Linked DNA regions of Homo sapiens. The protein of the gene in region 1 interacts with the protein of each later gene in a biochemical or structural test. Each region holds a gene or a part of one and is shown on either strand. Other genes may lie near its edges. The genes, in order: KEAP1, PAQR4, AMER1 and MCM3.

Region 1 (7,020 bases):
ATTGCGTAGGGCTTTGCAGGCTGTTGAGGAGTTCAGTTTTACTAGGTACTGTGGGAGGCATTGGAGGATCCAGAGCAGGGGAGAGACATGACTTCATGTATGTTTTAAGATGGGCTCTTGGGCCAATCAGGTTGATCAGGTCGGGGAAGTTTGCAAGTTTGCAAATGGATTCTGCTTCACCTACTTTGCAGGAAAACTGACCTAGGAATTGCTTTATCTTGCAAAACGAGGCCCGGCAGGTGCTGGCCCAGTCCCAACCCCTGCCCTCTGCCCTGTGCTCTCTCCCCTCCAGGTCCCTGAGTGCCAGAGGTGGTGGTGTTGCTTATCTTCTGGAACCCCATGCAGCCAGATCCCAGGCCTAGCGGGGCTGGGGCCTGCTGCCGATTCCTGCCCCTGCAGTCACAGTGCCCTGAGGGGGCAGGGGACGCGGTGATGTACGCCTCCACTGAGTGCAAGGCGGAGGTGACGCCCTCCCAGCATGGCAACCGCACCTTCAGCTACACCCTGGAGGATCATACCAAGCAGGCCTTTGGCATCATGAACGAGCTGCGGCTCAGCCAGCAGCTGTGTGACGTCACACTGCAGGTCAAGTACCAGGATGCACCGGCCGCCCAGTTCATGGCCCACAAGGTGGTGCTGGCCTCATCCAGCCCTGTCTTCAAGGCCATGTTCACCAACGGGCTGCGGGAGCAGGGCATGGAGGTGGTGTCCATTGAGGGTATCCACCCCAAGGTCATGGAGCGCCTCATTGAATTCGCCTACACGGCCTCCATCTCCATGGGCGAGAAGTGTGTCCTCCACGTCATGAACGGTGCTGTCATGTACCAGATCGACAGCGTTGTCCGTGCCTGCAGTGACTTCCTGGTGCAGCAGCTGGACCCCAGCAATGCCATCGGCATCGCCAACTTCGCTGAGCAGATTGGCTGTGTGGAGTTGCACCAGCGTGCCCGGGAGTACATCTACATGCATTTTGGGGAGGTGAGCGGGGAAGTGGGGCTGGGGGCAGTGTCAGGAGAAGGACCAGGGATGGACGAGTGCTCATCACTGTCTCCCCTTGAGATGTCAAGGCAGGAAACTGGAGAAAAAGGAGGTTCTGGGCTGGGTATGGTGGTGTAGTCTCCACAGTTTGAGGGGCTGAGGCGGGGGGATTGCTTCAGGCCAAGAGTTCAAGACCAGCCCAGGCAACATAATGACACCCTGTCTCTAAACAAACAAACACACAAACAAAAAACAACTGGGGCCGGGCGTGGTGGCTCATGCCTGTAATCCCAACACTTTGGGAGGCCGAGGCAGGTGGATCACCTGAGGTAAGGAGTTCAAGACCAGCCTGGCCCACATAGCTAAAACCCATCTCTACTAAAAATATAAAAATTAGCCAGGCCTGGTGGCGGGCGCCTGTAGTCCCAGCTGCTCAGGAGGCTGAGGCAGGAGAATCGCTTGAACCAAGAGGTGGAGGTTGCAGTGAGTGGAGATCGAGCCACTGCACTCCAGCTTGCGCAACAGAGCAAGACTCAGTTTCAAAAAAAAAAAAAATTAAAAAACAACTGGGGTTCTGAGTTCCTTGTCTACACATGTGGGGAGACTGGTGAACAGCTGGGGAAGGTGAGGTCTTCATATGTCTCTGGGCTCCCTGGTTTCTCTGGGGTCAAAGTGGGGCAGAGTGCAGTGAACAGCAGCCAAATCCTAGGGTAGCCCAGCCTTTCGGGCAGTCAGCAAATGTTTATTGGACACCCGTGACAGGCTGCAAGCTGTAAGTCTGAACCTTAGTCATGTTTTCTTTGGTCCACACAATGTCCTTATACTGTTTTTGGTTTCGTTTTCACATTTCTCAGTGAAGGAAATTATCTATAGAAATTGACAAGAGAGGGCAGGGCCCAGTGGCTCACGCCTGTAATCCCAGCACTTTGGGAGGCTGAGGCGGGTGGCTCACCTGAGGTCAGGAGTTTGAGACCAGCCTGACCAATATGGTGAAACCCCATCTCTAATAAAAATACAAAAAAAGAAAACTAGCCGGGTGTAGTGGCATGTGACTATAGTCCCTGCTACTCGAGAGGCTGAGACAGGAGAATCGCTTGAACCGGGGAGGTGGAGGTTGCAGTGAGCCGAGATCGCACCATTGCACTCCAGCCTGGGCGACAGAGCAAGACTCTGTCTCAAAAAAAAAAAAAAAAAAGCCTGGGCGCGGTGGCTCATGCCTATAATCCCAGCACTTTGGAAGGCCAAGGTGGGCAGATCACCTGCGGTCGGGAGTTCAAGACCAGCCTGACCAACATGGAGAAACCACGTCTCTATTAAAAATGCAAAATTAGCCTGGCATGGTGGCTCATGCTTGTAATCCCAGCTACTCAGGAGGCTGAGGCAGGAGAATCGCTTGAACCCGGGAGGCGGAGGTTGCAGTGAGCTGAGATTGCGCCATTGCACTCCAGCCTGGGCAATAAGAGCGAAACTCTGTCTCAAAAAAAAAAGAAAAAGTTTTTGAAGAGATGAGGTCTTGCTCTGTCCCCAGGCTGGAATACAGTGGTGCCATCATAGCTCACTGTAGCCTCCAACTCTTGGGCTCAAGGAGGCCTCCTATCTCAGCCTCCTGAGTAGCTGGGACTATAGGTATGCAGCACCACGCATGGCTAATTTTTTAGTTTTTAAATTTTTTTGTAGAGACAGGGTCTTGCTATGTTGCTGAGACTGGTCTCGAACCTCCTGGCTTTGAACAATCCTCTGGCTTTGGCCTCCCGTAGTGTTGGGATTACAGGTATGAAGCACCATACCAACACCAGGCCAAGAAGTGTTTATTGAGCACTTGCTGTGGGCCAGCCCCTGTTCTAAGTGATTTATGTCCTTTGCATCATTGACTGTTCCCAACTGTCCTATGAGGCAGTACTACCCTTCAGCCTAGGCAAGCAGGGCAGTGCCCCAGGCCCTAAGCCTTCGGGAGTCCCATGTCTTGGTGTTCCTTCCTGGAAATTTTCTAAGTCCCCCACTGGCTGGTACCAGCTGGGATGGATGTTACACTGATCTCTATTTCTCTCCTTCAGGGATAGATTCTTTCCTACCCTCTATGTTACATGTGGGGTTGATCAGACGCCCCAGGGTTCTCTGGCGTTAGTCCTAGGGCCTGCAGCTTCTAGGAAAGTGGTCTATACAGTAGGAGAAACATATACAGTGTTTCTTTCTTGTGTTTGTATGAACATGGGGTACTAGATTAAAACTGATTACATAGACGAGTGCCTGACAACTTTTTTTTTTTTTTTTGAGACGGAGTCTCACTCTGTCACCCAGGCTGGCATGCAGTGGCACTGTATCGGCTCACTGCAACCTCCATCTCCTGGGTTCAAGCAATTCTCCTGCCTCAGCCTCCCAAGTAGCTGGGATTACAGGTGCCTACCACTATGCCCAGCTAATTTTTAAAAAATATTTTTAGTACAGATGGGGTTTCACCATGTTGGCCAGGCTGGTCTCGAACCCCTGAGCTCAGGTGATCTGCCTGCCTTGGCCTCCCTAACTGTGCTGGGATTACAGGCATGAGACACTGCGCCCACGCCCGCCCCCCACCGCCCAGTCCTTTTTTGTTTTTGAGACTGAGTCTGGCTCTATCGCCCAGGCTGAAGTGCAGTGGCAAGATTTCGGCTCACTGCAAGCCTCCATGTCCTGGGTTCAAGCGATTCTCATGCCTCAGCCTCCGAAGTAGCTGGGATTACAGGGGTGCACCACCACGCTGGCTAATTTTTGTATTTTTAGTAGAGACAGGGTTTCACCATGTTGGCCAGGCTGGTCTGGAACTCCTTACCTCACGTGATCCGCCCACCTCAGCCTCCCAAAGTGTTGGGATTACAGGCTTGAGCCACCACGCCAAGCCCCCTTTTTTTTTTTTTTGGGGGTGGGGGACAGAGTCTCACTCTGTCATCAGGCTGGAGTATAGTGGCATGATCTCGGCTCACTGCAACCTCCGCCTCTCGGGTTCAAGTGATTCTCATTCCTCAGCCTCCCAAGTAGCTGGGATTATAGGCATGTGTCACCATGCCCAGATAATTTTTGTATTTTTTGTAGAGATGGGGTTTCACCATGTTGGTCAGGCTGGTCTTGAACTCCTGACCTCAAGTGATCCGCCCGACTTGGCATCCCAAAGTGCTGGGATTACGTGTGTGAGCCACCGCACCTGGCCTTTTTTTTTTTTTTTTCTTTTTTTAGAGACAGGGTCTCACTCTGTCACCCAGGCTGGACTTCAGTGGCACGATCTCTGCTTATCACAAACTCCAGCTCCTGGGCTCAAGTGATCCTCCCACCTCAGTCTCCTGAGTAGCTGAGACTACAGGCGTGAGCTACCATGCTTGGCTAATTTTTATATCTTTTCTTGGTAGAGATGAGGTCTCGCTATGTTGCCCAGGCTGGTCTTAAACTCCTGGGCTCAAGCAATCTTCCCGCCTTGGTCTCCCAAAGTACCAGGATTACAGGCGTGAGCCACCACACCTGGCTACAAGAAATATTTATCCAGGGCTCTGTATACCCTAGAAGTAGCCTTACTTTGAGGTGGCCATTAATATAATCCCATTTTACAGAGGAGGAAAACCAAGACATGGAGCATTTCAGAGATTTGCCCAAGTTACACACCTACGAAGTGGTCGGATCAAAATTCCAACTCATGCTGGTTTCTTCGGAGCTTCCACTTTTTTTTTTTTTGGAGATGGAGTCTCACTCTGTTGCTCAGGCTGGAGTACAGTGGCACAATCTCAGCTCACTGCAATCTCTGCCTCCTGGATTCAAGCGATTTTCCTGCCTCAGCCTCCTCAGTAACTGGGATTACAGGTGCCCACCACCACAGCTGGCTAATTTTTTTGTTTTTAGTAGAGACGGGGTTTCACCGTGTTGGCCAGGCTGGTCTCGGACTTCTGACCTCAGGTGATCCGCCTGCTTTGGCCTCCCAAAGTGCTGGGATTACAGGTGGGAACCACTGTGCTGGCCCAGAGCTGTCACTTGTTTTTTTCCACAACATTCTATTGTGATTGCTTATTTTTTCCTTTTTTAGTCTATTTGCCATTTTAGAAAATGATTTCATTTTAAAAAACAAGATGGGTGAGTTGGCTCGTGCGTATAATCTCAGTGCTTTGGGAGGCTGAGGCAGGAGAATCACATGAGCCCAGGAATTTGAGGTTACAGTGGCACCTCTGCACTCCACCATAGGTGACAGAGCAAGACCCTGTCTCTTAAAAAATAAACTCAGACATCCCATCTCTACTAAAAATACAAAAATTAGCCGGGTGTGGTTGTGCGTGCCTGTAGTCCCAGCTACTCAGGAGGCTGAGGCTGAGGCAGAAGAATCATTTGAACCCGGAGACAGAGGTTGCAGTGAGCCGAGATCACGCCACTGTATCCAGCCTGACGACAGAGTGAGACTCTGTCTCAAAAAAAAAAAAGAAACAAAAGAGGCCGGGCGCGTTGGCTCACGCCTGTAATCCCAGCACTTTGGGAGGCTGAGGCAGGCGGATCACGAGGTCAGGAGATCGAGACCATCCTAGCTAACATGGTGAAACCCCGTCTCTACTAAAAATACAAAAAATTAGCTGGATATGGTGGTGGGCACCTGTAGTCCCAGCTACTCGGAGGCTGAGGCAGGAGAATCGCATGAACCTGGATGGCAGAGCTTGCAGTGAGGCAAGATCGTGCCACTGCACTCCAGCCTGGGCGACAGAGCGAGACTCCATCTCAAAAAAAAAAAAAAAAGAAACAAACAGAAAACTCAGAGGCCAGGCGCGGTGGCTCAGGCCTGTAATCCCAGCACTTTGGGAGGCCGAGGCAGGCAGATCACCTGAGGTCAGGAGTTCAAGACCAGCCTGGTTAACACGGTGAAATCCCGTCTCTACTAAAAATACAAAAACAAAAATTAGCCGGGTGTGGTGGTGGGCGCCTGTAGTCCCAGCTACTCGGGAGGCTGAGGCAGGAGAATGGCGTGAACCCGGGAGGTGGAGCTTGCAGTGAGCCGAGATTGCACCCCTGCACTCCAGCCTGGGCGACAGAGCGAGACTCCATCTCAAAAAAAAAAAAAAAAAAAAAGCCAAGCCAGGTATGGTGATGCACACCTGTAATCCTCAGGAGGCTGAAGTAGGAGAATCATTTGAGCTCAAGAGTTTAAGACCAACGGCCGGACACGGTGGCTCATGCCTGTAATCCCAGCACTTTGGAAGGCAAGGGGGTGGGCCACTTGAGGTCAGGAGTTCCAGACCAACCTGGCCAACATGGTGAAACCCCGTCTCTACCATAAAAATATGAAAATTAGCTGTGCGTGGTGGCACACACCTGTAGTCCCAGCGACTCAGGAGGCTGAGGTGGGAAGATCGTTTGAGCCCAGGAGTTCAAGGCTACAGTGAGCTATGATTGTGCCACTGCACTACAGCCTAGGTGACAGAGCAAAACTGTGTCTCAAAAGCAAAAACAGGCCAGGTCCGGTGGCTCACGCCTGTAATCCTAGCACTTAGGGAGGCTGAGATGGGCAGATCACCTAAGGTCAAGAGTTCAAGACTGGCCAGGCGAGGTGGCTCACGCTTGTAATCCCAGCACTTTGGGAGGCCGAGGCGGGCGGATCACGAGGTCAGGAGATCAAGATCATCCTGGCTAACACAGTCACCCCGTCTCTACTAAAAATACAAAAAATATTAGCCAGGCACGGTGGTGGGCCCCTGTAGTCCCAGCTACTCGGGAGGCTGAGGCAGGAGAATGGCGTGAACCCGGGAGGTGGAGCTTGCAGTGAGCCGAGATAGCGCCACTGCAGTCCGGCCTGGGCAAAAGAGCGAGACTCCATCTCAAAAAAAAAAAAAAAAAAAAAAGAGTTTGAGACCAGCCTGGCCAACATGAAGAAATGCCATCTCTACTAAAAATACATAGTGAAACTCCGTCTCTACTAAAAATAAATACAAAAAAATGGCCGGGCGCGGTGGCTCACGCCTGTAATCCCAGCACTTTGGGAGGCTAAGGCGGGTGGATCACAAGGTCAGGAGATCGAGACCATCCTGGCTAACACGGTGAAACCCC
Region 2 (7,045 bases), on another chromosome or scaffold:
AGGAAGACTGGCCACAGGCCTGGTGGGAGGAACAGGATAGGGTGAGGAGGCTCTGGGCTGGCGGCCTGGCAGGACTTGAACTCTCAGAGCAAGACGTGACCCCAGAGTCCCTCTCTGGTCTAACCCCACAGGTCACAGAGGGTAAAGAGGTCCCAAGAGGGAAAGGTTTCCTTCCAGCTGACACAGTAAAATAGGAGCTTGGAGGGAAAAGGCAGGGAAGGAAGTTGGAGCGCCACGGCGTGGGTGGAAGAGGTCAGTCCACAGGGAAGAACGGGTGAACAGGGCTCCTGCTGAGACATCTCATGAGCTGGAAGCATCCAAGGAGCCAGCCCCTTGCAGACGAGTTGGGAGGAACACCTGGTGTTGCTAACTCTAGGAGGCTGCTGTGGGCAGGCTGGCATGGCAGCTCAGTCCCGGGGACAGGCGTGGTGGGCAGCCCAGAGCAGGTCGGGCACGACGCCGGCGTGCAGCTGCAGGATGGAGCCCACGCTCAGCAGGTGCATGATCTGGTGGGAGTTGCCCCAGTAGTCAAAGCGGCCAGGTCCCCAGCGCTCGGGCAGACGGGCTACATTTACCAGTCCCCCAAGCAGCGCCAGTGCGTCCATGCGCAGGTAGCAGGGCAGGGAGCCTGGAGCCCCTGAACCCAGACCCACTCCCCGGGCCCCAAATACCAGTAGGCGGGCAGCAGCCTGCCATCCAAATGCCCGGAGCCGAGCACTGGTGGAGGGGGCGGTGAGAGCACGCCAGCCGGCCACACCCGACAACACAGTGTAGCCCACCAGGGCAGCCGGGCGCAGCCAGGGCCTGCAGGCCAGGGTGCAGTGGATGATGGGCAGGGCCCCTGCACAAGAGGAGAGAACAGGAGAGGGCATGTCATTGTGAGGGTCCACCCGCCCTTCCCTACCCATGGCTTGTATGCGTGCCCCATGCCTCTCCCGCCGGTGGCTCCAGCTCCCATCCCTTGGGCCCTGACTCACCAAGGGTGTTGACAAGGCAGACCCCACACATGTCCAGGGCGAGGAGCCGGGCGTACACAGCGCTGCCCCCTTGGTGGCACATAAAGAGGTGATAGAGCACGGAGCCTGCAGGGGGTGCAAGGCAGGCCACGCAATGTGTGCCTCCCAGCCAGCCATCCTTGCCCAGCTGACCCCAGGGCATGGTCATTGGCACCAGCACCAGGAAGCCCAGCAGGGCCAGCCCTAGGGAGGGAGACAGTCATCTACCAGATAGTTTCAGTCACATCCTCAAGGGGACCACGGTTCAGACACAACACAGGACAGGGCAAGACAGGTCCAGGTAATGCTGTCATCCAGTTGGCGGCCTGGCCTTGGCCAGAGACAGGCCCTGGGCAAAAGGCTTTTGGCACTGGTTACTTATCATGGCTCAGGATGGTCTGGGAAGTAGAGACCATGATCCCCACTTTGCAGGTGAGGAAACAGACTTGGAGGGGCTGAGTGACCGGCCCCGGGTGAGCCCAGCAGGTAAGCAATGGCAGAGGACAGGCCTAGGCCGTCCCACTCCCACACTGCTCTCCCCATACAAGCAGGTCACAGGAGAAGGCTAAGGCAGCGAAACCTCAAGTTGAGTTGTGAAGAGGACACATGAGCAGTGATGCCAGCCCGGGGCCACTTGGCTTGCTCTTCCCAACCCAAGTCCTCCCCTCTCCATAAGTGTCCAGACAAATGGAGGCACTGGGCCTTTTTATCTTCTATAAAGGGGTGAGGCCAGGTGGGGGAAGACAAGTCCAGAATGAAGGGAAGGGGGCTTCGAGGGGCTTGTCCCATCTCCCCAGACCTCTCCCTGGGGAGTTTGATTCCAGCCTAGCCCTTTCTGGGAGGTCTCCACCCCTCCCTGCCGGCCTCTAGTACTGGCCTCCCAGGGGCCAAACGGGGCTCCGAAGGCTGCCCACCCTTGTGAGAATGTGGCCTGGCAAAAGCTCGGGAAAGGCACCCAGGCTGGGCCAGGCCGCTCAGGGCCCCTTGCCCGCCTGGGGCAGCTCAAGGACGGGCAGGGCTGTGTCAGCAGAGCTCCGCGGGGCGCGGAGGAGGGGCCGGACGCCTGTTGGGGGAAGAAGGAGCCGCCACCAGGCGGAGCCCCAAGACAGAGCGGCTTGGGGCGGGGGCGTCAGGACGGCGGCGCTGGGAGGCTCCTCCCGGGCCCTCCTCATCGCAGTCAACACCATCTCCCGGCTGGGTGCTGGCGGGAGGGGGTTCCCAGGGCGCTGGGATTACAGAGGCCGGACACCATGCTCCCTACCCCTGGGGCTCAGAGGGATTAAGCAGGCTCAGACCCTACTCTGCTCCCCTCTCCTGACCCGGCCCCCACCCGCCGGGAAAACGGAAGCTGGCAGCGCGGCCCGGGACAATGGCAGCTTTGTCACCGCGGCTACTGGCGGTGCCAGGGCCGGGGCAGCCCTGGACTTGGGCGCTGGGGCCCTCCTCGGCCTCAGTGCCCCCGGCCCAACGCAGGTAGGGCGGCCGGGGGTGTGGGAAGCGCGTTGCGGGACGCGGCTCACCGTGCGTGTAGATGTTGCCCAGTTCGTTGTGCAGGTAGAAGAGGCTGCGCAGGCAGCCCGAGCCGCTGCTGGCGGGCCGGTACCCGGTCAGCACGAACTTATTGAACTGCAGGTGCGGCGGCGAGCTGGCCCAGTCCAGCAGGCGCGGCCCGGCCAGGAACGCCATGGTCCGCACCGCGCGGGCAGCCCGTGCTCCTGCTGTCCCCGAGCCTCCTCCTCAGTGGGGCCGCAGCGCGGGAAGGCCCATCACTGCCTGGCGCCCGGCGCCCGGCGCCCACCCATCGCCCTGCGCTCGATCGGCGCACGCGCTGGCTAGGGGGTCCCAGCCCGCGCCCCTCCGGCGCTGCGCACGCGCGAGTCCGTCGCCCCCGCGCCGGGGCGGAGGCTGGGGACGCACCGGACGCCTGAGCGCACTGCGGTCGGCTCCGCCAAGGCAGACGCGCCGCAGGGACAGCTCGCGGCGGCGGCGGCGGCGGTGGCCGGTAGTCTCTCTGCAGCCAGGAGGACGGGCGCGGCCGGACGCGGGAGGGGACGCCAGGCTCCGCCCAGGCTCCTAGTTCCCGCCGGCCGGCCAGCGTTTCGCGCGCCGGGCTCCTGACGTCGGCGCAGCGAGAGCCAATGGGCGTGGCCGGCGGGGAGGCTCCGCCCCGAGGCCGCCCAGGCCTCGCCTCCTAGCATAGTGTGCGCGCTCCCAGCCTCATTTGCATGGGGTGGCTGTGGGCTTGCGACCCAACGTTCTGGGTCCTGCGGGCTGCGCTAGAGTGACCCTGGCACCTCGCGTCCCTCAGAACTGTGCATCCGGGCTTTCCGCGTGACACCCAGGTCTCCGTACCTTTGGGCACCCACCCTCGGGGGCATAGTCCTGCCACCTAGCCCTACCCTGCAGACGGGGCTCTGTCCAAGGTGCTGCCGGACGGGTCCGGCCTACATCCGGTACGCCCCCGCTCCAAAGTGATCTTTCCGCAGGCTGGACTCCCGAGTGCAGCAAGGCGCTCCACGGTACCCAGGCCTCTGAAGGCGTGCCTCACGCGCCCGCAGCCGTCGGGAGAGGCCCTATCCTTCGCGCTAGGCTTCTCGGAGCGTGGGCCCGGCCCAACTTGCTCCCAGTTATCGCCCACAAGGAGCACCCTTGCGGGGCCCTACCGAGGATAGACAGGAAACAGATTGGAGGCCAGGGGAGCAAAGTCGACCTCCGCCCCGTCCACCCTGAGCAGGGACCGGGAAGGCACCCCTTATTCAGCATAACGCTGCCCACGATCCTCCTCCCCTTCCACCCCCCGCCTTCTACAGGACTCCACCCACCCACCCATCTGTCTGTGTTCTAGGTCCTTCTCTGCATTCCAGGCAGCTCCACCAAAGTCTGCGTGCAACGCCCTTCATTTGCATGGACACACGCAACCCTCGGCGTTTGTATGGTCATTAACATGCTCCTCCCACCACGGAAGAACTTTCGAGGCCCGTACCAAAGTAGATCCTTTATTCAAAATCTGTGGGGGTTTTTTGACTGTTTTTGCTGACCTGTGACCTCTCACTGAGGACGGCAGTCCAGGACCACCCCCAGAGGGGTTCAAAGACCTCCGAAACCAGAGACCACCCCCACATACAGGTCCATGGAGAGGGCCTGGACCATCTGGACCCCCACGGTCAGGCCAAGTCCCAGATAATAGCACCAGATGTTTCCTGTCCGACTTTTGGTCTCCCCAAGGCGACCAGAGGCCGAGCTGCCCCTACACAGGCGCAAGGCCGAGGCAGGGCGCAGCACAGCATCTCAGGTGTCCATCTCGCCGGCGGCGGGCCCAGCGGACCCTCGGGGCCCAGAGTCAGAGAGCGGAGATGAGCGAGCGCAGGGAGCTCTGGCTGGAGGCACTCAGAGGCCGGTAGCCCGCGGCAGAACCCTCAGCCTGGGGGTCCCCGGGGGAGCAGGGCAAGGCCACCCCTCGGGGCTGTTGGTACCACACAGCCCAGCTTCTCCTGGGGCCCCTGGAAGCCCCCAGCGCCGGGGGCCCTTTTCCCGGAGCCAGCAGACAGCTCCTAGAGAGGGAGCAGACATCAGCCGAGCCGGTCCAATCCCGCTGCAGCGTCCTGCTCTACCTGCGATCCCGCGCGCGATCCTGTGCGTGGACCCAAAGCCTCGCTCCCTTAAGAACCCAGGAGTTCCTTCCTAGCTCTGTTCCCTTCTGGGGCTCCAGCTCCCCACCACCGGTCCGCCCTCAGGCCCTGCCCCAGCGCCCCGCACCGTCGGCGCAGCGGACGCAGCAGCCCCAGGAGCAGCAGCAGCAGCACCGAGACAGCCGTCACCGTCGAGAAGACCCGGGCTGCGGGCACACGGCTGCGGTGAGGATGGGCGCGAGGGGGCGGCTCCCTGACTCACTCCCGTCCCGCGCGCCCGCCTCACCCCCAATCGCGGCCGGCGGAGCCCCAGGCCTGGGGCTGCAGCTCACGTTGGCCCCGTCGAGGGGCGCCGCGGGGGTCTGGGCCGAGCCCTCGGGGGCCTCTGGGTCCTCAGCGGCGTCCTGCAGCCCTGCGGAGAGGGGCGTGAGGCGGGGTGGGGAGAGCGGGGTGGGAACAGCGGGCAGGGCGCGCCGAGCTGAGGCTCACCGCGGTAGGTGAGCGCGAAGCCTTGCGCGTGGCCGCGCGCGTCGCTTCGGAAGGTGAGCAGCAGCGCGGCAGTGCCCAGGCGCAGCGGCCCGGACGGCGGTGGGCGGGCGCCATCGAAGGCGCGGAGCAGGCTGCCCGAAGCCGCGTCGCGCAGCTCCAGCCGGTCGCGCGGGTCGGCCAGCTCGAAGAGGCGGAAGGTGAGCTCCAGCGCGGCGCCTGGCGGGCCCAGGGCCCAGCTGCAGTTCCGGTCCGGCCCGTACTCGTCCGGGAAGTCCGGGGAGTAGATGACGCCCTGAGGCGCTGTCCAGTTCCCCTGGCAGGAGCCCACCGACACTGCGGGCGGGGCCGGCAGTCAGCATCCTGAGGACCAGGACACGGCGGCTCCCCTGCCCGGCCAGGCCCCACCTCGAGGCCCGCCCAGGCCCCTGGTCCCCGCCCACTCCTCACCTTCATAGACGCCCAGCCGCCCATCGCCGCCACACAGCTGTCCAGGGTGGCCGAAACAGATCTGGTCACAGTCGGTGGCGGGGGCCAGGCGTCCCCGGGCCAGGTCGCTTTCAGAGCCACAGAAGCAGGCGTAACCGGCCTCCACGCCCGCCAGCTGGGAGCACAGACTGGGTGACCCCAGGGCAGGGGCTGGGGTAGGGGTGAAGTGGTGGGGGCCTGGGGTCGGGGTGGGAATCGGGCTGGAGGTTCAGAAACCGGTGTCTGGGTTTGGCAACCGAGTGTTGGGAGTTGAGTGTGGTCTTTAGGTCCAGGTCAGGGGTCACTGGTCTGGGCCCGTGAGCAGTACCTGGTACCCCTTCATGCGGCAGAAGCGTAGGCACACCTGGACCGTGAGCTTCGTGGAGGTGCCGCTGGGGCCGCTGAGGGCTGGGGGTGCCCCTGAGTCCACAAAGCATCCCAGGTAGCCTGGCACTGAGGGGGCAGAGTCAGACTTCCGTGACTCCGAAAACAACCCTCCTCCCAGATGCAGCAGCGTTCCCACCTCTGTCCAGCCGCGCTACTCACTGTGACAGGAGGGGATGTCGCAGTAGCGCCAGTAGATGCCCTCCTCTGTCTCAGCCACGTAGCACCACGGCTGCACGTCACCGTCTGGGTTACTGCGGGTGGGAGGGAGGTGGTGGGGCTCCCACCACCCCAAGAATAGCAAACCCAGGCCCGGCCCCGCAGCCTATGCTCAAAGTGGCCTTCAAGGCTCTGTGCCTGTGAGCGGCTGTGCTGCCTGCTGTACACCCACAAATTCCAGTTTTGTCTACGCAGAACTCTGCCTGATGAAGGAACTGGACGTCGACTTCCGAGTGGACAGCGGGAAGTCATTAAAGGGGACTTGAGAGCTGTTTTTAGGCTTCAGCTGTTGCTAGACTTGACTCCATATATGAGGACTTTGAGGCCATCTGTATTCTTCACCCCCACCCGGCATGGGCCTCAGCCACTTCCGTCCCTCAAACCCCACTTTTTTTTTTTTTTTTTGAGACGAGTCTCGCTCTGTCACCCAGGCTAGAGTGCATTGGCGCGATCTCTGCTCACTGCAAGCTCCGCCTCCCGGGTTCAAGCGATTCTCCTGCCTCAGCCTCCTGAGTAGCTGGGATTACAGGCGCCCGCCACCATGCCCCGCTAATTTTTTGTATTTTTAGTAGAAATGGGGTTTCACCATGGTAGCCAGGCTGGTCTCGAACTCCTGACCTCAGATGATCCGCCTGCCTTGGCCTCCCAAAGTGCTGGGATTACAGGCTGAGCCACCGCGCCTGGCCTCCAACCCCACTTAAAAGCAGAAGTGAGCTCCTGAGCTTTGCGGCTCTCCTCCCGCTGGGTCCATCCTGCCTCAGACCGTAGCTGTGGCTCTGAACCCCAAAATAAGTTGTATGACAAGAGCCCCACTCTGACAAGGCCCCGCCCATTCGGCCCCCGCTCTGACCAGGCCCCGCCCAT
Region 3 (7,919 bases), on another chromosome or scaffold:
CCTCACGGAGCTTCCATTTTCATGATAAGAAAGAGAAAATTTAAAAATGACTCTAAAATAAATAACAATAAAAAATATACCAAGAGGTGGTAAATGCTGTGGATAAGAAAAAAAGGCCTATTAAAGAATTGGAGAGTGAAGGGGGTGGAAATGGGGATTGCTATTTTATATATCAACTGTTCAGTGAAGGTGTCACTATTAATGACATTTGAGCAGCCACCTGAAGGAAATGAGGTGCAAACTATGCCAATATTCAGAGGACAAACACTGTAGGCAGAGGGAGCAGCCAGTGCAAAGGCCCTGAGGTGGGATTTCTGACAAGTCAAATTCAGTATGTCCTAAACAAAATCATTTTTTTTTTGGAGACGGAGTCTCGCTCTGTCGCCCAGGCTGGAGTGCAGTGGAGCGATCAAGGATCACTCCAAGTTCTGCCTCCCAGGTTCATGCCATTCTCCCGCCTCAGCCTCCCAAGTAGCTGGGACTACAGGCGCCCGCCATCACGCCCGGCTAATTTTTTGTATTTTTAGTAGACACGGGGTTTCACCGTGTTAGCCAGAATGGTCTTGATCTCCTGACCTTGTGATCCGCCCACCTCGGCCTCCCAAAGTGCTGGGATTACAGGCGTGAGCCACCGCACCTGGCCACATTTTCCTAATTCTGTTCCTATATTACTCAGTTCAGTGGATGACAACACCATCCAGCAGTCCCTTGTCCAAGTAAGAAACTCAGGAGTTTTCTTCCTCTTCCACTAGACTGGTTGCCCTTGAGACCAGAAGCTGTGTGTAGTCCATCATTCTGGGTAATGAGTGTGTCACTTAACACAGGGCCTGGCACAAAGGAGATGCCCAATGAGTGGTAACATCACACTTCATTGGTGGATGCTGGCACTTAAGCTTGATATTAGGCCTGAAAATGCCTCATTTCATGTTCAGTAAATACATACTCATCAACAAGTTTCTGCCAAACTCTCTGTTGAGTGCTGAGGATATGAAGATGAACAAAATATTCTGCCCTGGGAAACTGAGTCTGGGTCTGCACAATAAAGTGAGTCTGTTCATAAGGAATCATAGGCTCATGTGTGTTTATATTAAAAACTGGTTTCGGCCAGGTGTGGTGGCTCACGCCTGTAATCCCAACACTTTGGGAGGCCAAGGCAGATGGATCATGAGGTCAGGAGATCTAGACCAACCTGGCTAACACAGTGAAACCCCGCCTCTACTAATAATACGAAAAATTAGCTGGGTGTGGTGGCAGGTACCTGTAGTCCTAGCTACTCGGGAGGCTGAGGCAGGAGAATGGCGTGAACCCGGGAGGCGGAGCTTGCAGTGAGCCGAGATCGCTCCACTGCACTCCAGTCCGGGCGACAGAGCGTGACTCCGTCTCAAAAAAAAAACCAAAAACAAAACAAAAACTGGTTTCAAAGTCATATTAGCAGTTCCATAACTTTGAAGATCTGTACATTGGATCAGAAGGATAGCAATAATAATAACAGCATCAGTAACTAACATTTATTGATACCATCTTATGTACTAGCCTCTGTGCCACTTCATATGGACTACTCAATTCTTACCACAATTCTCTGACATGGGTGCTATTATTTTCATTTTGCAGAAAAAAATGTTGAGACTCAGAGAGGTAAATTGACCTGCCCAGATCATACTGCTCCTAAGTGGCAAGCTTCACATCCCAGCCCAGGCAGTCTGGTGGCAGAGCCACTACAACATACCACTTTCCTGGAAAAGATGAACTTAGCTAGTTGAGCCTCAATTTACCCAGGCAGTCATGGTCTTTTACACTTTGGCCCCAGGCCTTTCTTTCTAGTCTAATGTCCAGCTCTTCCTCTCCCCACCACACAAATACTTAGCCACAGCCATCCAGAATTGTAGCTCTTGCCCAACCCACCATACCCTCTCACTGATGGGCTTTGGCTTGGGCAGGAATCCTTCCCCTACTTTTCTGACTTGACCCAACCGTCAAAGCTATCCTCCATAGAACTTTTCTCTGATACCCCTTGCCACCCTGGGGAGAAGGAGTCTCTTCATCTGCAATGCTCCAGAACACCTTTGCCAGACCTCTAGTGTAGATTTCAGTTCCTCTCAGAACTCCATACCCAGGTGCCTCAAAAAGGTTAACACTGTACTGCTTCTCCCAATAACTATCAACAGGCCTGGCATAGAGGAAATGACTATGGAATACTTGGTGAAGAAAGAAATGAGCATTGTAATGATGTGCCCTGTAATGATGTGTCTACTTGAGTTTATGAAGTTGCCTCCACACAGCCCACACATCTGTTCTTATGGGCTTTTCACCGCAGCCACAAGACACTAGGCAGCACGAGGATTATCTCCATTTTGCAGGTAAACAAACTTAAGAAAGATTTCCAGCTCCTCACAACCAGTGCCTGTCTTGACTAAGCAAGTTGACCACGTGTCAGTCAGCATGTGGAATGGGGTCTTACAGTACTCTCTCTATGAGGAGGCATTTTGAGGTGCAAGTTTATGCACACACTTGGTCTTTCCATACATCGTCCCTGGAGAGAAGTGAGCTATGCAAACAAGAAGCTGTGTTGTCCCCTCCCACATCTTTTCCCCTTTAATACACACATACAGTATCCTCCCAAGACTCAGTAATATCTGGACCATAAAGAAGGGTGCTCAGCTGGGAGTTCTCTAGGATCACAAAGAATATTTTTTTTCCTGAAGCCCCATTTCTTTTGGGTTTAGCTCAATTTCTCACGAATTGTTCCTCCCACACTAGTCACTCCAAAAACTGACTGGTGTGACAGAATGTTTGGTGGCTGGGCAGAAGGCATAGAAGACTAGCCCCTGTGACAGGAGCAGCACAATAGTGCCTGGGACTATTTCAAGCCTGCCACCTGACTACTTTGCACACCTCCTCTCTCCCTGCTTCCACAACTGAGACTGCTCTGGCCCTTTGTTTCCCTGGACCCCAGGTTTGCAAACTGCCTTCTCATAATCTTAGTCTAATTCAAAGAATCAAGGTTCTGAGTGAAATGTGAGCAAGTGGCAGTGACCAGAGGCACGAGGTAGGGAGGAAGTCTATAATGGAGATTCTGGAAAAGAAAATAAACTTCCAAATCAGGCCCACAAATGAGAATCAGGACTTTGCAAAGCAGGAAAGCATAGCCCCAGGGAAACTTTTATAGTCCAGCCATCCAGATGGGAAAAAAGTTGCATAATGAGCCAGCAGCAGCTCCCTACTCCTCATCGTTTATTTAGACTCAGTACTAGGATGGGAGTCTGATGTTCAATATTGATTTTTGTTGGCAATGTATAGAATGCCATGGAAGGTCATGGAACATCTATATTTTCTATAATATTCCGTGGAAGATCATGGAATATTATAGAAAAAAATGAGTTGAACTGTCAGATCTCAAAGATATCAAGGGAGCCTGATGATGCTTACCCTCTCCTTGTGGAGGTGGGGTGATGCCCTGGCCCAGAGAAAAAAATGAATTGGCCAAGGTGTCCAGCAAGTCTGAGGTAGAGCTAGAGTCAGATCCCTAGCAGCCATGTCAGTTCCTGTGCTCTACACATGCAGAGGCAGCAGTCCACCTCTTACCAGTTCAGCAGCTGGATCTTTTCAAGACTGTCAGGACCCAGAAGCAGCAGAGAACACTCCTGCAATGCAAAAATAGCACGCATTGTTCTCTAATCCTTCTCTCTATCCTCAGCTTTAATCCACCCACCTCCCTTTTTAGACACACACAGAGTTTTAGGGCTGGGCCTTCTGGATATTCTTGAACTAGTGGTGGAACTAGATTCTTTGCTGCCTCAGCTCACCTGGCCCTGGCAGCCACTGATGCCACTTAATGTCCTTAGGCTAGAGACCCAAGTTCGCCGGGCTCCCTGCCACATCCCACACACAGTAGCAGACAAGGCTGGTACAGGCCTCCTCACTTTGTCCTCAGCCTGACCTCCGGTTTGGGCCCAGACAAGATTTTCCTCTCAATATTTAGACTTTTCAAGGAAAAAGGCCTGCCGAAAGCCAGGCTCACAAAGGATGGGGGAAGGGGGACTCTGGAGACCTTGGGGATTCCCTCCACATTCCATAGAAGGTGCGAAATTTGGGTGAGGGTCAAACTATGGAAACAGGTATCATCTCAGAGAAGAAAAGTGAAAGCAATCCTGGAAAGGGAGCCCGGGGCTCTGGATTCCAAATTGGCCCTTGTCGCCGGCAGGCTGGGTAACTGTGGGGAGGGACTTTCCCCACTCTGGGCAGCAGAGGGCCCGTCGGTAACGGGTGGAAGTTGGCCTCTATGGTCTCTAAGGGCACTGGTGTGCCAGAGAGGCGGACGAAGTTAGGGCGCAGGCGCTGCAGCTAGCTTTCCTGGCAGGTGAGTCCCTCCTCTGGGTGGCCTGGCGGCGCGATCCGCAGGGCCTTGTCTCTACGACTAAGGATAGGCCGGCCCTTAGGTTTCTGCAGTCTTCCCAGATTCCTCAACCTCTCTGCCTCGTTACTCCCCGCCGGCCTCTAGCTCAGGAATAAACGTCCTGGTGGCGGCCAGGGCACAGTACCGCGAATGCACAGCGGCCACAGAAATGGGAGTGCGTGAAAACCGAAACCGATCCGGCGAGCCCCATCCGGGCAGGACTGGCTCCTTGAGGCCACGGTGTAGCCACGCCACTACCAGCCCGGCGTGGGGGCGGGAGTGGGGAGCCCCAGCCAGTGGTTCCGCACCCTCTCCGCCCCCTGCCAACACCACGCCTGCACTTATTTGCATTTAAAGAGAAACGCACCAAGGAAAACAGTGGGCGGGCCGGGGCACGCCTTCCCACCATAGCGATTGGGCCATATGCCTGCCAATCAGGACGCAGATGCCCCACCCGGTGGCCTTGGAGTACTGGGGGAGGGGGTATGGGGGAGCTACCCAAAGCCTGGGGAAGGGGAGTCAGTGCTGGAGGTGACTGGAGCCGCGGCGACGGCGGCAGCAGCTGCGGTGGCGGCGCTCTCAGCCGTGGCAGCCGAGGCTGCAGCCCGGCCCAGGGCGGCTCAGCGGACAATAACCGGGCTAGGAACCTGACCGGGCTGGGTAAGCGTTGCGTACAGCCAGGAGCCTCCGCCTGCCCGCGGTCGGGTGCATTCCCGCGTGCTCTGCTCCTACGGACTGGAGGAGGGCACTAAGGACTAGGCGGGTCGGAGTCCCGGTCGCTCGCCCCTCTCCTTTGGAACCCGCTTTGCGGACTGTCGGGTGGAGAGGCAGAGCGGCCTTGAGTCCCCTGGGCACAAGCGACCACGGCTGGGGGGAGGGGGGTTGGGGAGGGCGGGTAGGAAGGCAGGCTAGCCTGGGCCAAGCCTCCCGGCTTTCGGGGGGGCGGGGATGGGCCCGCACGTGCTGCCGCACAGTCCCGGGAAGGGCGCCGCCAGCCAGCACCCCAAGCCATGCATTTGTAGGCCAGGAGCTCTGCAGCTTTGTTGTAGCACATTTGCTGGAACAGCTGTGTAACGCGGGTACCGCTCACCCCTCTCTCCGGCTGCCTGGCTGCCGCCCCTCCCCTCCCCTGTGCATCTCCAGCCTCTCCCTCCTTTCTGCGGACTCAAGCTGGCGTGCTGGCTTGGGCCCGACGGAGACCGGCTTTGGCGTGGATTGGGACATCCACAGACTGCCCCCTCCCCAGAGGAGCTCAGTTGGGCCTGTGGGCTGAGCTCAGTCGCACACTTCCCTTCAGAACCTTGGCCTTGTGGCCCCAACTAGCCGCGCCCCTCCTCCTGGGCCTCCGGGCGCATCTGGCGCCCGCCCCCGCGGTCGGGCAGGCTGGCTGGCAGCCGGGCTCTTGCTGGTCCTTGGGTTAGAGCAGCGGCGCAAGCTAGTCCTTGAGTTAGAGCTGCAAGGCCGCTTTGTCTCCCGCCTCGCCTCGCCTCACCTCCTTTTCCCTTGGAGGATACTGGCCGCGTTTTCCTCTCCAGCCTCCCGTTTAAAAATAGCAATAGGCACGGTGTTTGGGGGGCATTTCCTTGCCAGAGGCCGAAGGAGCCCTCATTGTAGTACGGAACGTATCATACCATCTCTGTGTACAGGAGAGCTAGCGAGGTGGCCAAACCCTCCAACTTCGCAGTTACTTAACATACCCAGCCCGCCAGGCCCCTGTCATTGTCTGCTGGAGACACTTCTGACACTGGTGACCGCCCGAACGCTGGACTTTGCTTGGCTCCCCCGGTGGTGAGGGGCTGTGCCCGCTACATGCGTCACAGCCCAAGCGCCTAGGCGGCAGCTGGACTGGCCCCGCAGAGCTGGTCTCCGTTTGGCCAGGCTGCTTTCGGCAAGGGCCGCGGGGTCAAGGCGAGCCTTGTTCCACACACAAACATCTTCCTCTGCGGCTCTGCCTGCCTGCTGCAGCGGCGTGGGCATGGGCAAGGCAGAGGGCACTGCACTGTTGGACTGCCTGCCCCACCGGGATTCCAGCAGAGCCCCCTCCCCCAGTGTGGCTCCCCTCATTCGGCACCACCCACTGCACAGTCACTGCACCATGGTGCACCTCTGGCAGTGGGCTCTCTAGGCCTTTTTGAGGAATAGGACAGAGGAAGCCACTGGGGGCTTGGTAAGCTCTTGGACCTTTGATTAACCTCTGGTGTGGAGAGCCCTGTGGGCTGCAGGGCCCAGGCAAAGCTTGGGCACTTTGAGGAGGGGCAACGAGACCCAGTAAATTCCTCACTTGGGGGAAGGCTAGCTCTGGACCTTTATGACAGGAGCCAGGACCACAGATATCACACTACAGTCACCTCCTCCCACCTTGATTAGGCCCCAACACAAACCTCTACTTGCAGCTGGGCATCTCTAGCCCAGGGCTGGACCTGCCCTCTGCCTTGTCTCAGGCCAGCAGGCACCTAATGTATCTGCTCTATGTAACTCCCTTCCCCACACCCAAACCCACTCAGCCTACACCTGTCCAAATCTTCTTCCTTCTCAAACCTCAGTTCTGGGCCTTCCTTTTCCTTGGTGCCTTTCTGCCTGGCTCTTGCCCACCCATGGTGACTTCTTTCTTCTCAGAACTCCTCCAGGGCTGCCTACTTCTCCTGGGCATATTCAGGCTTAAATTATAATAGGATGCAGACTATAATTAAGTTGGCCTGCCTCTGTTTTGTCTGATATCATGGATGTCTGGGTTCTCTCAGAACCCTTTGGAGGAGTAAATAAAACCTGGACCTCAGCCACAACCCTCTCAAAGCCAAGCAGTGCAGAGCAGTTAATGATTGTTCCGGAAGGACTTGCTTTCTTTGTAGAGTTTTCCAGAAGACCTTTACCTTTCCAACTTGCGCTTGTCCTGATTCATATGAAAGTGGCTAGAGAAATGATACTCAAGGCTCAGATATGTATTGAGTGTGCCTAATGAGGATGGATTAGAAGGGGGATGATTGCAACTACAAGAAAAAAATCATGATATATCTTCCCCCAACAACAGGCCCAGGATTTGGAATGCTCAGATCCCAGACCATGCATATCTTTGGTTGCTGATTCATGAGCCAAGAGACAAACTACTTGGAGAGAGATGAAAGATCTGTATAAGCAGGGGGATCATCCATGGAAGCTGCCAGAAAGTAGAGGGGTTTAGTAGGCAAAGCATAAGCAGACCCAGGAATGGGAGGGGAGAAAGTGATTGACAGGCAGGGTGAAGGGAGTGAATGAGTCTATTCTGGTTGAGATGGTGTGGCTCAGAGGTAGAGAAGAGATTGAGGCTCAGTGATGGGGTTTCCCGGATGCCAGGCTGTGGAATGGAAATCTGATCCTTTTAGGGGAAGGCGGCATCAAAGAGTAGGGAATTGACAGGGAGTTGCTATTTTTGTATGTAACTAAGCAGTAATAAAAACAAGGTTTTTGAATGAGTTTTAGAATGGGGTCTTAGAAAGGGATCAGAAGCATGCTGCAAAGTCAGCCAGTTAAGAGGTCACCTTTGGATCTG
Region 4 (7,020 bases), on another chromosome or scaffold:
CTGGTCTCAAACTCCTGGACTCAAGTGACCCACCCGCCTCGGCCTCCCAAATTGCTAAGATTACAGGCGTGCACCCCCAACTTCTTGGCCACTAACTTTTTAATCTCATTTGCTTGCCCCACCTTACCTCTTCCTCTTCTGCTCCTGGTCCTCTTGGCTTTTCTCCTCTTCATCTTCTGTCTCTGATTCATCCTCACTTCGCTTCTTACGTTTCTTCTCCTTCTCCAGAACCTAAGACCAAGGCAAGTGTGGCTGGGCTAGAGGGGTCACTGATGCAGGGGAACTGCATCAAGAACTCCCAGTCCCTTCTGCATCATAAGCAGGAAAGACTTCCATGTTTCCAATGGTTTACCTAGCTCCTCTTGTCCCTAAGTCCCAGGACCAGGGGCAGAAGTAGAGACTGCTACCCATCTTTTCAAAATGCTGGGAAGTATGTTAAATGCTGTTTATATAGTAGGTACTCAATAAATGTTTACTGAATAAAGAAACAAATGTCTAGCCCATAATGGTTAAGTGAAAACAATCCATTTCCTTATAAATCAGGTGTCTAATTGAAATCCAAGACAACCCTTAACCTAGCAAAAAGCGAGGAAGAGTTTATCAGACTCACAACTCAACCCTTAACCTAGCAAAAAGCGAGGAAGAGTTTATCAGACTTACAACTCAACCCTTAACCTAGCAAAAAGTGAGGACGAGTTTATCAGACTCACAACTCAACCCTTAACCTAGCAAAAAGCAAGGAAGAGTTTATTAGACTCACAACTCAACCCCAAAAGGCTAACATTCACCAGACTGGGGTGGGAGTGGGCAACTAGGAAAAGGGAGTCTAGGCTTTGAGGCTTGATATCTAAAATGACAGAGGTGCAATGTCACAAACAGAAATAGGGAAACAGGATGAGTGGCAAGTTTGAGAGTTCAACTTTAAACATGAGCTTCTGAGGTGCCAATGGGACATTTGAAGAGACTACCAAGAGGAAAGGTAGAGTGGGACAAGGAAGATTACCAAGGTAGCTCTTTTGAAAACACCTACTTTTTTTTTTAAGATGCAAAGGAAGTAGGGGTAGACAGAGAAGCAGCTAACTGAAAGTACAGCACATCAACTAAACCAGAATCTCTAGGAGCCCTGGAATCAGCATTTTAAAGCTTTCCATCTGATTCTCTGGTGCAGTCAGGGTTGAGAATCACTGAGTGTTTCAGAGGAAAGAGTGAGGCAGACTGATGACTGGAAGACAAATACTGCTTTCTGTTGACAATCCAAATGTAGCCGTCAGCCACGGAAGGCTGGGAAGCCCATGCATCTGTAATATATCCAGGAGATCCTCTCATGCCCAGGCATCTGAATCCTCACCTTCTTAAAGTAAGCATACTGGACCAACTCCACAGCTTCCTCTGCATCCTGCAGGTCCACAGTCTTGCTCATGCGGGCCTTCGCATGGGCTGTGGCCAGTCGAATCAGAGTTTCCAGTGTTCGGGCTGTAACTGGAGATGTCTAGGGAAGAAAAGGGAGGATTGCTTATCCCAAGTCTTTTAGGCATGCCCATCAATCCTACTGCACAGAAAGGGAAATGACACTACCAGAAAAGCCCCAGGAGGCCCAAGCAAAGAATTCAGAGTTCTGTGTTCTCTACAGATACCATATAAAAATGAGAAAGATGATAGCAATGATCAAGGAAATATACACAAGAGTGTTGCAGGAAGGAGGAGCAAGTGAACAGGGAAGATTAGGCATCTAACAACTGGAAAGATAAAAAGCTACAGCGTAGAAAAGAGAAGGGAGAAAAATCATCAGTGATTGCAGGCCTGCAATGCAGCAGGAAGTTTGCCTTTATATACATTCTGTCATTTCACCCTCTTAATAACTTGGAGAAGTTTTATACATGAAGGAAATGGGACTCAAAGACCTTCAAGGAGATTTTCCAAAGTCACACTAAAGGAGGGATAGGAAAGAAGTAATCTGAGGACAAAAACGTAACTTCAGTAAACTCAGTCCGGAGAAGGAGAACTCTGACACATTCCTAACAAATGTTTCTCACAGGGGCCGATGAATACCAAACTGGGATGCCTTTATCTTTTAAAATGCTATTGTCTGAATGGCCTTTCTTGACCTAATCAATCAGAATGAATTGGAAATGAATGAATCAGAAATCTCAGTGTTTAGGACTAGATATGTGTACAAGTTTCAGGTGATTCTGATGTATCCAATCCTCTCATTTTATGGATAAGAAAGCTGACCTGACAGGTGAAAGGATTTGTCCACAGTCCAAAAGCTAGCTGCAGAGCTGGGATCAGACATGAAACTACTTCCAGCCCGGACGTGGTGGCTCACATCTGTAATCCTAGCACTTTGGGAGGCCAAGGCAGGCGGATCACAAGGTCAGGAGCTTGAGACCACCCTGACCAACATGGTGAAACCCCATCTCTATTAAAAATACAAAAGAAAAATTAGCCCGGTGTGGTGGCGCATGCCTGTAATCCCAGCTACTCAGGAGGCTGAGGCAGGAGAATAGCTTGAACCCGGGAGGCAGAGGTTGCAGTGAGCCAAGATCATGCCACTGCACTCCAGCCTGGGCAACAGAGCGAGATTCCATCTCAAAAAAAAAAAAAAAAAGAAAAAAAAAGAAACTACTTCCTTCTGTCACACCTCCCGGGTCTCCCATTATATGACCCCATCACTGACGTATCCTGGTCACTTCTTGTTTCAAGTTTCCTAAATTACCATGTATATCCACAATGACATTCAAAAATAAATACATTCACATTTAAATTCATTCATCAAATCTTGTAATAATTTAGAAAGCTACCGGAGTTTGGAAGTCATACACTCCATGACAAGTTCTAATTCTTAAACCACCTAAAAAGCTGGTGAAATCCTGGCCTGCACTAGCAGACCTAGAGAATCCAAATTCTCTTGGAATTCACTTACAGACCCCACACTAAGACAATTAAAATAGTGTATGACGCTCAGTTCTAGGTTCAATGAGAGGGCCTGGGACACACCAGAAGTTCGCATGTGGAAAGGAACAGTTAAAAAGAAAGTAAGCTGTTTAATGAGGAAGACAGGCGATACACAACCTCCAGAAAACAAGACTAACACCCACAGGTAAAAGTTGTGGGAAAATAGGTTTAAGCTTAATAAATATTCTAAAATTTCAAAACAGTGATGCTCTGCGCATGCTGTCACTGGGGGTATTAAGAAGTCCCGGCCGGGCTCATGCCTATAATCCCAGCACTTTGGAAGGCCGAGATGGGCGGATCACGAGGTCAGGAGATTGAGACCAGCCTGGTCAACACAGTGAAACCCCGTCTCTACTAAAAATACAAAATTAGCCGGGCATGGTGGCACGCACCTGTAGTCCCACCTACCCGGGAGGCGGAGGTTGCAGTGAGCCCAGACCATGCCACTGCACTCCAGCCTGGGTAACACAGCAAGACCGCATCTCAAAAAAAAAGTCCCAGCAGGGATTTGAAAAGACAGAGTGGGTGAGGCTTGAGTAGATGATCTGGGATCATGTCTAATCCAAGAATCTATGTCTATGTAACATAATAAGAGTTCTGGACTTGGGTCTTTCTGCTGTAAAATCCTATGTGAACTACACTGCCCCTAAAAGATTTAGACAAATTTGGGCCGGGCATGGTGGCTCACACCTGTAATCCCAGCACTTTGGGAGGCCAAGCCGGGCGGATCACCTGAGGTAGGAAGTTCCAGAGCAGCCTGACCAACATGGAGAAACCTGGTCTCTATTAAAAACACAAAATTAGCCGGGTGTAGTGGTGCATGCCTGTAATCCCAGCTACTCAGGAGGCTGAGGCAGAACAATCGCTTGAACCAGGGAGGTGGAGATTGCAGTGAGTTGAGATCGCGCCATTGCACTCCAGCCTAGCCAACAAGAGTGAAACTCTGTCTCACCAAAACAAAAACAAAAACAAAACAAAAAAAAGATTTAGACAAATTCATGGACACCTATATTAGGTTACCAGAAATTGCTTTGAATAACCATCATGGTTGCCTGTTAGTCATTTTTTCAAAGTCCAGTCCAAATATCATACTCTCTGGGAATCCTTCCTTGACATTCATACCCCTTCAGGGAAGTCTAAAAGAAATTAACAGTTTATTCGTCTATGCTCAAATAGCCTTTCACGTTCATTCCTTTGTAAGTACCACACTGGGGTAAATATTTATAAATATGTACGGAAGTCTTTCTATCTACCTTTGTGCTTCCCCCGCTCCGGATCTGAGCTCTTTGAAAAGAGTGTTTATTAATTTTACATTGCTTGTAAGAGGAAAGACTAGGTCACTTCCCAGAAGTCACTCCTATGTTTGCTGAATGAATCACAGCTTCTGGAGGCCAATGTCATTTTAACTAATAAGAGACATGTTATCTCTGGGGTCCTTATTTCATTTTCCTTTATAAAAGGAAATGATTAAAATTGTATAACAGGAAGCCCTTCAGACCAGGAAAAAAGTCACTAAGTTAAAATGCTTTCAAAGCTCCCAGATAGCAGGGACTCCTGCCCAGCCATATACCTAAGGGACCCCAAGCCTAGGCTCCCCCAGGCACTCACCCTGGCGGTGTCTGAGCTCATGCTATCCTGGCTGCGCAGGCGTGAATACTCTTCTGCAATGTAGGTGGCCGACTCCTGTGTCAGGACAGGCTTGATGATTTTGGCCACATGGATGTACTTCTTCATGAATGCTGCACTCACCATCTTCTCCCTGGAGCCACACACAGTGAATTCCATCTCCCTGCCACACCTTACCACCTGCCTGGATTAGTGGCTTTGCCTCTCAGAAAAGCCAGGGTCAAAACAAAGCCTAGAACCCATTATCATAACTCCCATTTATATGGAACATAGACAAGACTCTTTCACATATTTTTATTTAATTATTACAGGTATTATTTGTAAGTTAGGTAGTTTAGGCAGAAAGTTTAGGTATTATTTGCTCTATTTTGTAGGTGGGAAAACTACAGCTCAGAGAAGCTCAAGTTGACTAAAAGTTTTCTGACTCCAAATTCTACATTCTTAAACCAACAGCTTTGAAGATTATGCTATGCTTCTTACTGCATCATGGCCAAAAATAGGTGTAAGATCCCACATTTCATGCTTTGAGCACCTGATCACACGTCTCCTTCACCAAGTCTACCTACAAAGTCTCAAATGTTTGCTATCTGCTGACCCTTCATCACAAATGGCTACATGACACTTGCCATCTTTCATATATAAGGCACACCCACCATCAGGCGTATCATCAAAACTCTATTTTAAGAAAAGACCTGAACCTGCGCTGAATCACCTAAACATTTACAAGGCAACTGGCCAGGATAAAGGATATATTGTGGACCCAGAAAAGAAGAAAATTAATCCACGTGGTTATGACTCCAGGCATGGCTTTGACCTGGGCATATAAGGCCTTAGCTAAGCTTAGATATACACATGCTCTAATATAACACATATTTCAGGTTCCCTTGAGGAAGAGTTATGAGAATGCTCACTTTTTCTTCTTGGTCCCATGTAGAAGGTTGTCATGCTTCTCATAAATCTGGGTGTCCTGCTGATCTTCCTGGCTAAAGTTGGGATCATCTGTGGCCAGGATATCCACAGCACTACCCAAGGGCATAGCTGGTATACCCAAGTTAGGAGAAAGGAGAGTAATAAAGAGTTTAACCCAGGGGAAATTGCTTCTTCTATAGCACAAGAAGGGGAGACACCAAGATTCATAAAGAAAGGGCCCAAAAAGAATCAGACACATGGAACCCACAAATAAAGATAGTGGAACTGCCTGGCTCACACAAGATGCTCAGTTATTCCCAGACCCAGAAATGGACAAAAGACACACCTTAGGATACCCTCCACTAAGCAAGAAGGGGAGGTGGCTAAACAGTTGAGGGCTCTTCAACATCAACCCGGACACTGAAACACCTACCACCACCTGGGTTGGGCCTGAGAAACTACCATCTGTTTAGCGCCTTTCCATTAGTTACTCTTACTATTCTTATGGCCTCACCATCGCCATCCTGCTCCCCAGGTGCTCTGTAACGGTGCATCCGAAGGACATGGTCTGAGATCTCCCGATCCTGCTCAGGATCCATCTGATCCAGCATGATGAAGAGCAAGTCAAATCGTGACAGCAGTGAGTCCTGTAGCCCAATGTTCTCCATTGGAGTCTTATACTGGTCATACTGGGGAATGCGAGGACAACAGAAGTGGACATGACATCAATAGGAAGAAAGAACAACAAGGCTGCTGCAGTTCTGGGAGTGGGAATGAAAGGCTTGACCTCAAAGAGCAAAACAGACAAAAAGCAGTGAAAAAGGGAAGTGTTTTAAAGCCATTAAACAATGTAAATCATCTCTTCTACCTGCAACCCTTCTTTAACTGAGCTTCCTAGGAAGCCCCACTTTCTACTACAGGAACCTCTAACAGGCTGAGTGTAGGTCTGAAAACCAGGCCCCTGCTTCCCAAACCTTATTCTGCTCTTCTCATTCCCAAGGCAGGACCTGACTCTGAAAGATGATCCCTTTCCCCTACCTGTCATAAAGACAGGGCAAGTTGGTTAGGCTACAAGCACTTAGAACTTTTTGGAGTCCCTTACTCAGAAGATACAAGTAAAACCTCAACTAAAATGGTCAATGATCTATATATCATAACATCTTAGAAACTGGCCAGGCACATCCACTCACACCTGTAATCCCAGCACTTTGGGAGTCTGAGGCAGGTGGACTGCTTGAGCCCAGGAGTTCGAGACCAGCCTGGGCAACATGCAAAACCCTGTCCCTATAAAAACTTAAAAAGAAAAAAAAATTTGCCAGGCATGGTGGTACGCATCTGTAGTCCAAGCTACTCAAGTGGCTGAGGTGGGAGGATCACCTGAGCCCAGGGAGGTCGAGGCTGCAGTGAGCCAGGATCACTCCACTGTACTCCAGCTTGGGTGGCAGGGTAAGACTATGTCTCAGAAAAAAAAAAAAAAAATCAAGGGAGTTTTTCCTTGGGATTCAAAAACCCCAATACTCTCCTTTCAAT

What was found.
Region 2: the proteins of KEAP1 (region 1) and PAQR4 form a complex in vitro, tested with the Homo sapiens proteins (one study listed by BioGRID).
Region 3: the proteins of KEAP1 (region 1) and AMER1 form a complex in vitro, tested with the Homo sapiens proteins (2 studies listed by BioGRID).
Region 4: the proteins of KEAP1 (region 1) and MCM3 form a complex in vitro, tested with the Homo sapiens proteins (2 studies listed by BioGRID, with this or other methods).

Annotation. Positions count from the first base shown.
Region 1 is NC_000019.10:10,493,353-10,500,372, reverse strand, and holds part of KEAP1 (kelch-like ECH-associated protein 1), read left to right. Parts: intron 1-292; 5' UTR 293-339; coding exon 340-978; intron 979-7,020. UniProt on the Homo sapiens protein: Substrate-specific adapter of a BCR (BTB-CUL3-RBX1) E3 ubiquitin ligase complex that regulates the response to oxidative stress by targeting NFE2L2/NRF2 for ubiquitination.
Region 2 is NC_000016.10:2,965,311-2,972,355, reverse strand, and holds the start of PAQR4 (progestin and adipoQ receptor family member 4), read right to left. Parts: upstream 3,009-7,045; 5' UTR 2,682-3,008; coding exon 2,516-2,681; intron 1,200-2,515; coding exon 978-1,199; intron 842-977; coding exon 408-841; 3' UTR 1-407. Other genes in the region: KREMEN2 (kremen protein 2 isoform d precursor), read right to left, coding at 4,336-4,546, 4,752-4,830, 4,911-5,036, 5,114-5,446, 5,561-5,714, 5,907-6,031, 6,125-6,216. UniProt on the Homo sapiens protein: Plays a role in maintaining adipose tissue function through the regulation of ceramide levels. Mediates the stability of ceramide synthetases, CERS2 and CERS5, and their activities.
Region 3 is NC_000023.11:64,202,704-64,210,622, reverse strand, and holds the start of AMER1 (APC membrane recruitment protein 1), read left to right. Parts: upstream 1-4,914; 5' UTR 4,915-5,053; intron 5,054-7,919. Other genes in the region: uncharacterized protein LOC112268307, read right to left, coding at 3,583-3,641, 4,539-4,604. UniProt on the Homo sapiens protein: Regulator of the canonical Wnt signaling pathway.
Region 4 is NC_000006.12:52,267,738-52,274,757, forward strand, and holds part of MCM3 (DNA replication licensing factor MCM3), read right to left. Parts: intron 6,180-7,020; coding exon 6,005-6,179; intron 5,620-6,004; coding exon 5,493-5,619; intron 4,766-5,492; coding exon of another isoform or gene 4,715-4,765; coding exon 4,564-4,714; intron 1,490-4,563; coding exon 1,349-1,489; intron 270-1,348; exon of another isoform or gene 232-269; coding exon 128-231; intron 1-127. UniProt on the Homo sapiens protein: Acts as a component of the MCM2-7 complex (MCM complex) which is the replicative helicase essential for 'once per cell cycle' DNA replication initiation and elongation in eukaryotic cells.